Homo sapiens: one gene and its partners. The protein of the gene in region 1 purifies or fractionates together with the protein of each later gene. This does not show direct contact. Each region holds a gene or a part of one and is shown in the gene's direction. Other genes may lie near its edges. The genes, in order: FBXO22, HPN and TAOK1.

The links.
Region 2: the proteins of FBXO22 (region 1) and HPN purify together in Homo sapiens (co-immunoprecipitation; one large-scale study listed by IntAct). This does not show direct contact.
Region 3: the proteins of FBXO22 (region 1) and TAOK1 purify together in Homo sapiens (affinity purification with mass spectrometry, with the first as the bait; one study listed by BioGRID). This does not show direct contact.

What each region holds. Positions count from the first base shown.
Region 1 is NC_000015.10:75,902,333-75,906,079, forward strand, and holds the start of FBXO22 (F-box only protein 22), read left to right. Parts: upstream 1-1,545; 5' UTR 1,546-1,631; coding exon 1,632-1,771; intron 1,772-2,158; coding exon 2,159-2,297; intron 2,298-3,243; exon of another isoform or gene 3,244-3,325; intron 3,326-3,747. UniProt on the Homo sapiens protein: Substrate-recognition component of the SCF (SKP1-CUL1-F-box protein)-type E3 ubiquitin ligase complex that is implicated in the control of various cellular processes such as cell cycle control, transcriptional regulation, DNA damage repair, and apoptosis.
Region 2 is NC_000019.10:35,040,087-35,043,833, forward strand, and holds the start of HPN (serine protease hepsin precursor), read left to right. Parts: upstream 1-1,634; 5' UTR 1,635-1,786; exon of another isoform or gene 1,787-2,366; 5' UTR 2,367-2,420; coding exon 2,421-2,436; intron 2,437-3,747. UniProt on the Homo sapiens protein: Serine protease that cleaves extracellular substrates, and contributes to the proteolytic processing of growth factors, such as HGF and MST1/HGFL. Plays a role in cell growth and maintenance of cell morphology.
Region 3 is NC_000017.11:29,396,860-29,400,506, forward strand, and holds part of TAOK1 (serine/threonine-protein kinase TAO1), read left to right. Parts: intron 1-3,647. UniProt on the Homo sapiens protein: Serine/threonine-protein kinase involved in various processes such as p38/MAPK14 stress-activated MAPK cascade, DNA damage response and regulation of cytoskeleton stability. Phosphorylates MAP2K3, MAP2K6 and MARK2.

The sequences.
Region 1 (3,747 bases):
AAGGGGTCAGGAAGCTCTGGTGACATCTGGGCCATCTGGCTTCCTTAAGCAGCTGCGCCTATAAATAGACTATGGGAAAAAACTGGCTGGGCTTGGTGGCTCATACCTGTAATCTCAACGCTTTGGGAGGCGGAGGCAGAGGGATGTCTTGAGGCCAGGAGTTTGAGACCAGCCTGGGCAACATAGACCCTGGGTCTACCAAAAAAAAGAAAAAAACCACAGCTACTCAGGAGGCTTATGCCACTGACAATGTCATACTATCCACCAGTGGGGGAAGGAGGATTTGGGAAATAATTGTTTTCCATAAAAATATTTCGTTAATGTATAACATCGGTTTTTTAAAAAGAGTTAAGCATTAAGATGTTCTGATTTAATTTTTAATATGGTAAATATTGATAGTCATAACACACATAAACTATTGGTCGTGTCAATATTTTAGGGTGTAAAGGGTCCTGAGGCCATAATGAGAACTGCTAATTTAGACCAAGTTTCTGCCCAAGATCTGGCGATCAAATCAGGGCTCCCTTAGGAAGGAATTGGCGGGAGGAATGGATGTTAGGTGGGGACAAACCTGTGTCTGCTGTGCTTCCATTTCTTGGTGGTTCTCAGTTTGAGCATGCATCAGAATCGTCATAAAGTGTGTTAAAACAGATTGCTGGGCCTCACCCCCAGTGTCTGATTCAGGAGGTCTGGGATAAGGACCGGGAATGTGCTAAAACTTAGTAGTTTCCAGGTGAATCTGATGTCCCTGGCGGGGAACTGGTGCACAGCTTGGGGCGTGCTTCACAGCAATCATCTCACTCAGCTACCTTAGAATGGCAGGTGCTATTTATGCCATTTTACTCATTCGAAACTTTAAACCTGAAGATTACAACGAGTTAACTAAGTTTACAAGGAATAAAGGCAGTGATTTTCACACACTAAGACAATTTTTTAAAAGCAAACGTCCGTTTATAAATCGAGCTTATGCTATTTAAACAGGCATTGGGACTACGAAGAGCAATAAGTACTACCTAGTCCCTGCAAGGAATTTGTGAATTAGAGAAAGATGTAAACTCAGAAATATGGCGGTGCCAGGGCAGTGAGAGGCACAGGCACAGAAGAAGAATTTATTTTCACTGCAGGAGGCCTCCTAGAAAGTTGCCAGGAGCGGTGGCTTATGTCTGTAATTCCAGCACCTTGGGAGGCCCAGGCGGGAGTATCGCTTGAGCCCTGGAGTTTCAGACCAGCCTGGAAACCCGTCTCTACAAAAAATACAAAAATTAGCTGGGCGTGGTGGCGGGAGCTTGTAGTTAAAGCTACGAGGGAGGCTGAGGCGGGAGGATCGCTTGAGCCTGGGAGGTAGAAGCTGCAGTGAGCAGAGGCCGCGCCACTCCACTCCCGCCTGGCCACAGCATTAGACCCAATCTCAAAAATGAAGAAAACAGTTCCGAGCGTATTACGGAACGGAGTACACCTCGGAGTACGGGCTCCAGACGAGGGAACGCACCGGCGTTGCCACGCCCACCTTCCCCGTCCAGCCGGAAGTGGCGCGGACGCCTGCTCAGTGCGCGCCGGCCGGGCAACCCTATGCTGGCGTAATCGGGTTCCTCCGAGCCGCCGTAGGACTGGTTCCGGCGGGCTGGTGAGGAATGGAGCCGGTAGGCTGCTGCGGCGAGTGCCGCGGCTCCTCCGTAGACCCGCGGAGCACCTTCGTGTTGAGTAACCTGGCGGAGGTGGTGGAGCGTGTGCTCACCTTCCTGCCCGCCAAGGCGTTGCTGCGGGTGGCCTGGTGAGGAGAGGAGGCGGAGGCGGGAAGCTTGCCTGGGGACACGCCGTGGGCATGTCCCAGGCTGGCGGGGTGGGGGGAGAGACCCTTGGGACCCACCAGGGCCGTCCCCGGCTCGCTCGCCCTACCTGAGGTGACCCCCTACCCGCGAGGTATCTCCCAGCCGTGGTGCCCCGGGGGGACTTCCCTGAGGGGCGAAGTTCCCCTTAAGGTTTTCTCCATATCTGGCTCTTCTTCCGAACTAGCGCCCTGACTGACACCTACCTACCCCGGGGACTTTGGATCCCGCAGGGATCTCCTGCTGCTGCGCCAGCGGGTGGGGGTTTGTGAGCTGTGGGAGAGACGAAAATGAACGTCCGTTCGCAATCCTTTGTGCGTTTGCGTCCTCAGCGTGTGCCGCTTATGGAGGGAGTGTGTGCGCAGAGTATTGCGGACCCATCGGAGCGTAACCTGGATCTCCGCAGGCCTGGCGGAGGCCGGCCACCTGGAGGGGCATTGCTTGGTTCGCGTGGTAGCAGAGGAGCTTGAGGCAAGTAGCAAGGGGTGTCATGCACAGTCATTTGCAGGTTGGTGGTTCAGTCTTTGAGAACTATTTTTTTTTAAATCCCAGTTTTGTTAATTAAAGGAACATCTCGTTCCGTGAAAAGATTTTGTAAACATCAGTTTTAGTGACTACACGGTAAGGATGTGTCATGATTTATTTGACCGTTCATCAAATGTTGGGCCTTTTTTTTTTTTTTTGAGACGTAGTCTCGCTCTGTGGCCCAGGCTGGAGTGCAGTGGCGCGATCTCGGCTCACCGCAAGCTCCGCCTCCCGGGTTCACGCCATTCTCCTGCCTCAGCCTCCCGAGTAGCTGGGACTACAGGCGCCCGCCACCATGCCCAGCTAATTTTTTGTATTTTTAGTAGAGATGGGGTTTCACCGTGTTAGCCAGAATGGTCTCGATCTCCTGACCTCGTGATCCGCCCGCCTCGGCCTCCCAAAGTGCTGGGATTACAGGCGTGAGCCACCGCGCCCGGCATGTTGGGCCTTTTAAGTATCCACATTTTCACTATTAACAACAACGCTGTGCAGAACCTTCCCTTCACCTGCTTCCCTTGAAGCAACTTTTTGTTGTCTGTTTTACCGGGAAGACAACTGGGTGTGTCTTGCTCAGTGAGCACACCTAGAAAGCCAAGAACCAAAACTTAAAGCCAAATATTTCAACTTCTGATCCTGTACTCTTTTGCTTCTCTGGCCCCCAACTTCAAAAGGGGAGCCAACACCAGGAGAGATGAAGACTCGAACTGTGGAGTCAGAGGGGCTGCAGGGTGTACCATCTCTGGGGAGTGGAAGGGAACCATTTGACAGTAAAGTGCCAACCTGCTGCTCTGTCACTCTGTTTACTTTAGTACGGCTTACAGACAGACATAACTACGGTGCAGCCGTCACAATCAGGAAATTATCACTGATACATTTCTACCATTTTATCCTCAGACTCGGTTCAGATTTTGCCAGTTGTCCCAGTAAGGTTCTTCATGGCAAAAAGATCTGTTCCCAATTGCAATTTGCTCTGAGTAAGTCCTGTTTCTTTAATCTCCTTTGATCTGGAACAGTTTCTCAAGCTTTGCTTGATTTTTCCCAATCTTGACACTTAGGAAAATCACAGGCTATTTTGTAGAACATCCATCAATTGTGTCTTTGGCAGGAAATAATCACAGAAGTGATGCTGTGCTTTTTTCACGGCATACTTTAGGTGGCATGTGATTTCCATTCGTCTTGTTATTGGTGGTATTACCTTTGATTACTCAATTAAGGCGATGCTTGCCAAGTGTCTTCACTAAAATCACTCTTCTACTGTAATGATTGTTTTGTGAAGAGATCATTTGAAACTATGTAAATATCGTGTTTCAATTCATTTATTTATTTATATCTGTACACTCTCGGAGTCTTATTTAATTCAGTGGGATATAATCTGTTACTGTATTTTGGTGCTCAA
Region 2 (3,747 bases), on another chromosome or scaffold:
CAGCGGCCCCGCACCCCTCCTCCTTGCTGATTTGCACACATTGGCCGCTTCAGACACGCACTTCTGGGGCCAGCCCCTCCCCGCCTCCTCCCTGCCTGGCGGCAGGGGTCGCGATGATGGGCTGGAGCAGTTTGGGGCAGGGGGTTCTGGGACCCACTCCGACTCCCCCTCCCCGGCATCATTTCCCCTCCCGCTTCCTCCGGCTGGACCTGGGGTCCCCCCTCCCTGTAATGCACTCCTGCCCCGGCCCAACCTCGCCCTCTCTCACCAGCCTTGAACTGTGGCCACCTAGAAAGGGGCCCATTCAGCCTCGTCTCTTTACAGAAGTAGTTTTGTTCATGAAATAAAGACTCTTGGACTTGATGCATAGTTTCGATTGTGAGCCCCGTCACCTTCCCCCCATTCCCGTCCCCGAATCTTCGAGCCCGCTTTCCAGGGACCCTACCTGAGGGCCCACAGGTGAAGCCACTTAGTGCCTGATCTGTGTCGGGGTTGGGGGAGCCATGGGCTCAGGGGTGAGGGAGAGTGGAACGGAGCCAGGAAGGGAGGGGGTGCCGTGGAGGGAAGAGAATCGAGGCTGATGCTGGGGTGCAGGGGTGGCATGGGGTGTGTGGTGTGCCCAGCAGTGTGAGTCTCTGGAGAGGTGGGCGCTGGGGAGAAGGAGAGGGAAGGAGAGACGGGTATGGATGGAAAGGCAGAGGAAGCCAGGCTAAACCAGCGTGTCCCAATGAGGGGCCCTGGGCTGAGTGGAGGAAATGGGTGCGGTGGAGGTGGGTTTGGCTGGGCACAGCGGGCACGTGTGGGTAAGCGGGTGGGGCCGGTTGTGCGGGTGGCCTATCTGGGGCAAGCAGCCGAGGCCGACTGTGTCCGGCGTGTGGTTGAGCACGGGCAGGTGTCTGGCGGTGACCCTGCACGTCTGGTGTTTACCTGGCCCTGGGTCTGACGTGGGCCGCGCCTGGCTGCTGGCGGGACAGTGTGTTATCTGCCTGCGGACGCTTCCGGCCACTTGGCCTGGGCCTCTGCCCTTAGCGCTGTGTTTTCCCGGCCAAGCCCCCCATCCCCCCTATCTAGTGCTAGGACTTTCTGGCTCCAGAGGTCACCGCGGCCGGGCGGAGGCTGCCAAAGCAAACCAGCCCCGTGACTTGTAGGAAGCCAGCGGGGGAGGGGCCGGGGCAGGATGAGCAGGGCAGGCGGGAGAGGCTGGGGCTGGGGTTGGGGCCCAGGAATTGGGCAGGGAATTAGGCAGAGGTGCAGCAAGTGGCGGGCACAGCCAGGACCTGGGGCTGGAGGACGCAGAAAGGGCGGGGGGAAGGGTTCGCTGGGTGAGGGTGGAGTGGGCTTAGGGCAGCTGGGGCCCTCCATCTGATCTCTTCTGGTCAGACCCCCACCCTTCAGCCTGCACTTTCTCCCTAAACCCCCAGCCTCCGGCCAGGCCTGTCCCTGTTCCCACATCCCCGCAGACAGGCACACCTGGGTCCCCCTGGAGGTCCAAGGCAAGCCCCGTAGCTGGGCCCGCCTGGTCCAGCCCCCACAAGCCCGGCCCCATCAGCCAGGTGGCCTCCAGTGCTGCCAATCGAATGGTCCGGCCCCTCCCCGCCCCTTCACCCGCCCCTCGCCCAGCCCCCTCCTCCTCAGGTGAGGCAGCCTGGCCTAGCAGGCCCCACGCCACCGCCTCTGCCTCCAGGCCGCCCGCTGCTGCGGGGCCACCATGCTCCTGCCCAGGCCTGGAGACTGACCCGACCCCGGCACTACCTCGAGGCTCCGCCCCCACCTGCTGGACCCCAGGGTAAGGACAAGGGCCCCCAGACTCACAGTTCCAGCCCTGAGGACAGGGGTTCCCTCATCCCCCCACCCAGCCTAATGCCCACCTCCTAATAGAGGGGTTCCTGGGGACCTGAAGAGGGGGCACTATGACGTCCCCCCAAGCACCTAGGTGTTCTGTCCTGCTCTTCCTTCAGACTCAGCCGTTGGACCCCAGTCCTTTCCTCCCCAGACCCAGGAGTTCCAGCCCTCAGGCCCCTCCTCCCTCATACTAGGGAGTCCTGGCCCCCAAATTCCTCCTTTCCCAAGACTTATGATTTCAGGTCCTCAGCTGTCTCCTCCCTCAAACCGGGATCCTCAGTCCCCTGCTCCACCAGGCTCAGGCATGGGGGTCCCCATCCCTGCAAATCCAGGCGTCCCCCCGCTGCTGGTCAGACACTGACCCCATCCTTGAACCCAGCCCAATCTGCGTCCGTGATCACGGCGTGCTCTGGCCAAGGCCCAGTCCCTACAGCCTGCCTGGATGGACGCCTGGGACTGGGGGCGCCAGGACTGGGCTGGGCTGGGCTCCCCCAGGCCCTGCCTCCCCGTCCATCTCCTCACAGGTCCCACCCTGGCCCAGGAGGTCAGCCAGGGAATCATTAACAAGAGGCAGTGACATGGCGCAGAAGGAGGGTGAGTCCCCTTCCCTGAGCCCCAGCTTTGGCTCTGCCTGGCGCCCCGCCCTCTGTGCTCTTTTCTCTACCCTCTACTCTTCGGAGCCCCCTCTCTCTGGGCACCCCTCCCAGATGCATCCCCACCCCTGTTAGTCCTCCTCCACCTGATTAACTATTAACCACATTTTCTGTGCAGCTGTGCCACCACCAGCCTCCCTTCTACCCTATGTGACCTTCCTGGCGTGCTGCCTCAGTTTCCCCTCATCCCCCAGTGATTTCTCAGCTAACTCTGGACTTGTCCTCTGCTGGGGCTGAGGCGGGGAAGCTGTAGCTGTCATGGTTAAGGACACAGATTTGGAGTGAAACACACAGGCTTGCATTTGAATTTGCTCTTGCCATCTTTTTTGCTGTGTGATCTGGTGCAAGTGACATTATTCTTAGGGCTTTGGTCTCCCTCTGGGTCAAGCATGGATACCAGTCCTCCCTCTGTGAGGTTGCTGAGTGCATGACACACACCAGGCACTGGTCTGGGGCTCTGCATATAAGACGCATGCCATCAAGCAGAGCTGTCATGACAGAGGTTGGCAAACTCGGAGTCCCAGAGACCCAGGACCCCCACCGATCCCAGACATTCCTCCACCTCCTGGCTCTGTGGGCAAAAGAGCAGAGGGAGGACTTTGGACTGGGCCTGGATGGATGGAGAGGGGAGAGACGGCAGAGAAACCACCATAAGGATGAGAGAGAGAGACTGCGTCATGGAGTTGCTGGCCCTTGGGAGTCTCTGGGCAGCCCCCAGCTAGCCTGGCTTCCTTTCTACCTCTCACACATGGGACCCAGCTGGAGGGGCGCATGGAGGGGCGTCCTGTTCTTTCTGCCTTCCCCTAGCTGGGGCTGACTCCCTCTCTTCTTCCGCAACCAGGATAGCCGGGCTCAGTCCTGGGCAGTAGCACTTTCTAGCTGTGTGGCCCTGGGCAGACGGCGTGTTCTCCCTGGGCCTCCATTCTCTCATCTGTGAAATGGAGAGGGTGACAGTGCATGTCCAACAGCGTGGGGCGAGGCCTGAAATGCCAGGATGGGCAGGAAGCACTGAGCGTGTTGGCTGAAATGATTAGTTCAGATCTCTGGCCTCCTCGGGTCTCGGCACAGCTGGCAATTCAGACCCCAAACCAATCAGCTGCAGTCCAGAGGGAACCCAGGCTCCCAGTTACTCAGGAGAAGGCATTGCACCCTAGCCGAGCAGGTGGATGACAGAATCCAGCTCCTTGGGGACAATCTCTTTCCTGGAGCTGCCGGAAGGACAGCCCCAGGGCTTGGGCCCATGGGTGAATGA
Region 3 (3,647 bases), on another chromosome or scaffold:
CGTGTGCCTGTAATCCCAGCTACTTGGGAGGCTGAGGCAGGAGAATCGCTGGAACTTGGGAGGTAGTGGTTGCAGTGAGCTGAGATTGTGCCACTGCACTCTAGCTGGGCAACAGAGTACAACTCTGTCTCAAAAAAAAAAAAAAAAAAAAAGGGCTGGGCATGGTGGCTCACGCCTGTAATCCCAGCACTTTGGGAGGCTGAGGCGGGTGGATCACCTGAGGTCAGGAGTTGCAGACGAGCCTGGCCAACGTGGCGAAACCTCGTCTCTACTAAAAATACAAAAATTAGCCGGGCGTGGTGGCACTTGTCTGTAGTCCCAGCTACTCGGGAGGCTGAGGCAGGAGAATCATTTGAACCTGGGAGGCAGTGGTTGCAGTGAGCCAAGATCGTGCCACTGCATTCCAGCCTGGGTGACAGAGTGAGACTCTGTCTCAAGAAAATAATAAAAAAGTTAAAAAATGGCTGGGTGCCGTGGCTCACGCCTGTAATCTCAGCACTTTGGGAGGCCAAGGTGGGCAGAACACAAGGTCAGGAGTTCGAGACCAGCCTGGCCAGCATGGTGAAACCCTGTCTCTACTAAAAATACAAAAAATTAGCCGGGCATGGTGGCGCGCACCTGTAGTCTCAGCTACTCAGGAAGTTGAGGCAGGAGAGTTGCTTGAACTCAGCAGGCGGAGGTTGCAGTGAGCCGAGATCGTGCCATTGCACTCCAGCCTGGGCAACAGAGTGAGATTCCGTCCCCCCCCAAAAAAATATATATATATATATACATGTATACATGTATATATGTATATTCATGTATGATACATGTATACATGTATACATGTATATTCATGTATGCATACATGAATATACATGTATGTATATACATATATACACGTATATATACACGTATGTATATATGTATACATGTATATTCGTGTGTATATATGTATATTCATGTATGTATATATGTATATACATGTATATATATGTGTATATATATATATGTATGTCACCATTTACTAGTGTAAATGTGTAACTTTTTCAGTTTTTGTTTTTTTGAGATGGGGTCTTGCTGTGTCACCCAGGTGGGAGTGCAGTGGCACAGTCATGGCCCATAGCAGCCTCTACCTTCAGGGCCGAAGCCGTGAGTAGCTGAGACTGCAGGCCTATGCCACCATACTTGGCTTATTTTAAAGTTTTTTTCGAGAAACGGGGTCTCTATGTTGCCCAATCTGGTCTCAAACTCATGGGGGCTCAGGCAGTCCTCCCTCCTCAGCATCCCAAAGAGCTGGGATTACAGGCATGAGCCACAGTACCAGGCCTGTGGTAACTTCTTTATTTAACTATTTATGCCTCACCTTTTCTTTTCTTTTTTTTTGAGACGGAATTTTGCTCTTGTTGCCCAGGCTGGAGTGCAATGGCATGATCTCGCTCACTGCAACCCCTGCCTCCCAGGTTCAAGCGATTCTCCTGCCTCAGCCTCCCAACAGCTGGGATTACAGGTATGCGCCACCATGCCCAGCTAATTTTTTGTATTTTTAGTAGAGACGGGGTTTCTCCATGTTGGTCAGGCTGGTCATGAACTCGTGACCTCAGGTGATCGCCTGCCTTGGCCTCCCAAAGTGTTGGGATTACAGATGTGAACCACTGCGCCAGGCTTCTTTTCTTTTCTTTTCTTTTCTCTTTTCTTTTCTTTTTTAGAGATGGAGTTTTGCTCTTGTTGCCCAGGCTGGAGTGCAATGGCGTGATCTCGGCTAACTGCAACCTCAGCCTCCCAGGTTCAAGTGATTCTCCTGCCTCAGCCTCCCGGGTAGCTGGGATTATAGGCATGTGCCACCATGCCTGGCTAATGTTTTTGTTTTTTTAGTAGAGACAGGGTTTCACCATGTTGGCCAGGCTGGTCTTGAACTCCTGACCTCAGGTGATCCACCCACCTTGGCCTCCCAAAGTGCTGGGATTACAGGCGGGCATGAGCCACCACACCCGTTAATGTGAAGATAGTATATACTGGGTTGTTTAAATAGGATAATGCTTGCTAAGTACTTAACTTACTGCCTGATACATGCTAACACTCAATAAATTGTTGGCTATCACACACTAGCTGCCTAATATAAATGTTTATGAGTACATTGAGATAATTTTTTTTTTTTTTTTTTTGAGACAGGGTCTCACTCCTGTCACCCAGACTGGAGTGCAGTGGCACGATCTCGGCTGCCTGCAGCCTTGACCTCCCAGGCTCAAGTGATCCACCCACCTTTGCCCTCCAAGTAGCTAGGACTACAGGCAAATGCCACTGCCTGGCTAATTTTTGTATTTTTTGTGGAGATGGGGTTTTGCCATGTTGCCTGGTCTGGTATCGAACTCCTGAGCTCAAGTGGTTCCACCTGCCTCAGCCTCCCAAAGTGCTGGGGAGAGTCTAATATTTAAGGATGAGTTGCATTATATAATTTTGATTTGATATTGGATTTATTTTTATTTATTTATTTTGAGACGGAGTCTCGCTCTGTTGCCCAGGATGGAGTGCAGTGGCACAATCTCGGCTCGCTGCAACCTCTGCCTGCCCTGTTCATGCCATTCTCCTGCCTCAGCCTCCCAAGTAGCTGGGACTACAGGCGCCCGCCACTATGCCTGGCTAAATTTTTGTATTTTTATTAGAGACGGGGTTTCACCGTGTTAGCCAGGATGGTCTTGATCTCCTGACCTCGTGATCTGCCCGCCTTGGCCTCCCAAAGTGCTGGGATTACAGGCGTGAGCCACTGCGCCTGGTGATATTGGATTTATATATCTGGAGTCTGACATACATTTTTGAAAGAAATAGTTAGAATATCAAGGTAGCTTAGTAACTTTTTGCACCTATAATGGACTACTGTGTAGTACTTAATGGGAGTTTTTTTCTTTCTTTGGGATAGATTCTCGCTCTGTCACTCAGGCTGGAGTGCAGTGGTGAGATCAAAGTTCACTACAGCCTCAATCTTCTGGACTTAGCGATCCTCTCACCTCAGCCACCTCAGCAGCTAGGACTACAGGCGTGCACCACCACACCTGGCTAATTTTTTTTTATTTTTAGTACAGACGAGATCTCACTATGTTGCCCAGGTTGGTCTTGATCTTCTGAGTTTAAGTGATCCTTCTGCCTTGTTCTCCCAAAGTGGTGAGATTATACACAGGAGCCACTGTGCCCACCTCTGATGGGAGTTTTTAATTTATCACAGGTTTTCTTTTTCCTTTGCTGGATATAAAGCCTGTCTTAAGAAATGACATTTCAGGCCGGGCGTGGTGGCTCAGGCCTGTAATCTCAGCACTTTGGGAGGCCGAGGTGGGTGGATTGCTTGAGGTCAGGAGTTCAAGACCATCCTGGCCAAAGTGGTGAAACCCCGTCTTTACTAAAAACACAAAAATTAGCTGGGTGTGGTAGTGGGCGCCTGTAATCCCAGCTACTTGGGAGGCTGAGGCAGGAGAATCACTTGAACCAGGCAGAGGTTGCAATGAGCCGAGATCGCGCCATTGCACTCCAGCCTGGGAGACAAGAGCAAAACTCCGTCTCAAAAAAAAAAAAAAAAAACAACAAATGACATTTCTTTTCCAGTACTTACTTTGTTTATTTAAGAAAAATTTGGTATCCCTCTTCTACCTCCTGGAGCTCTTTTTACCATCCCTGTC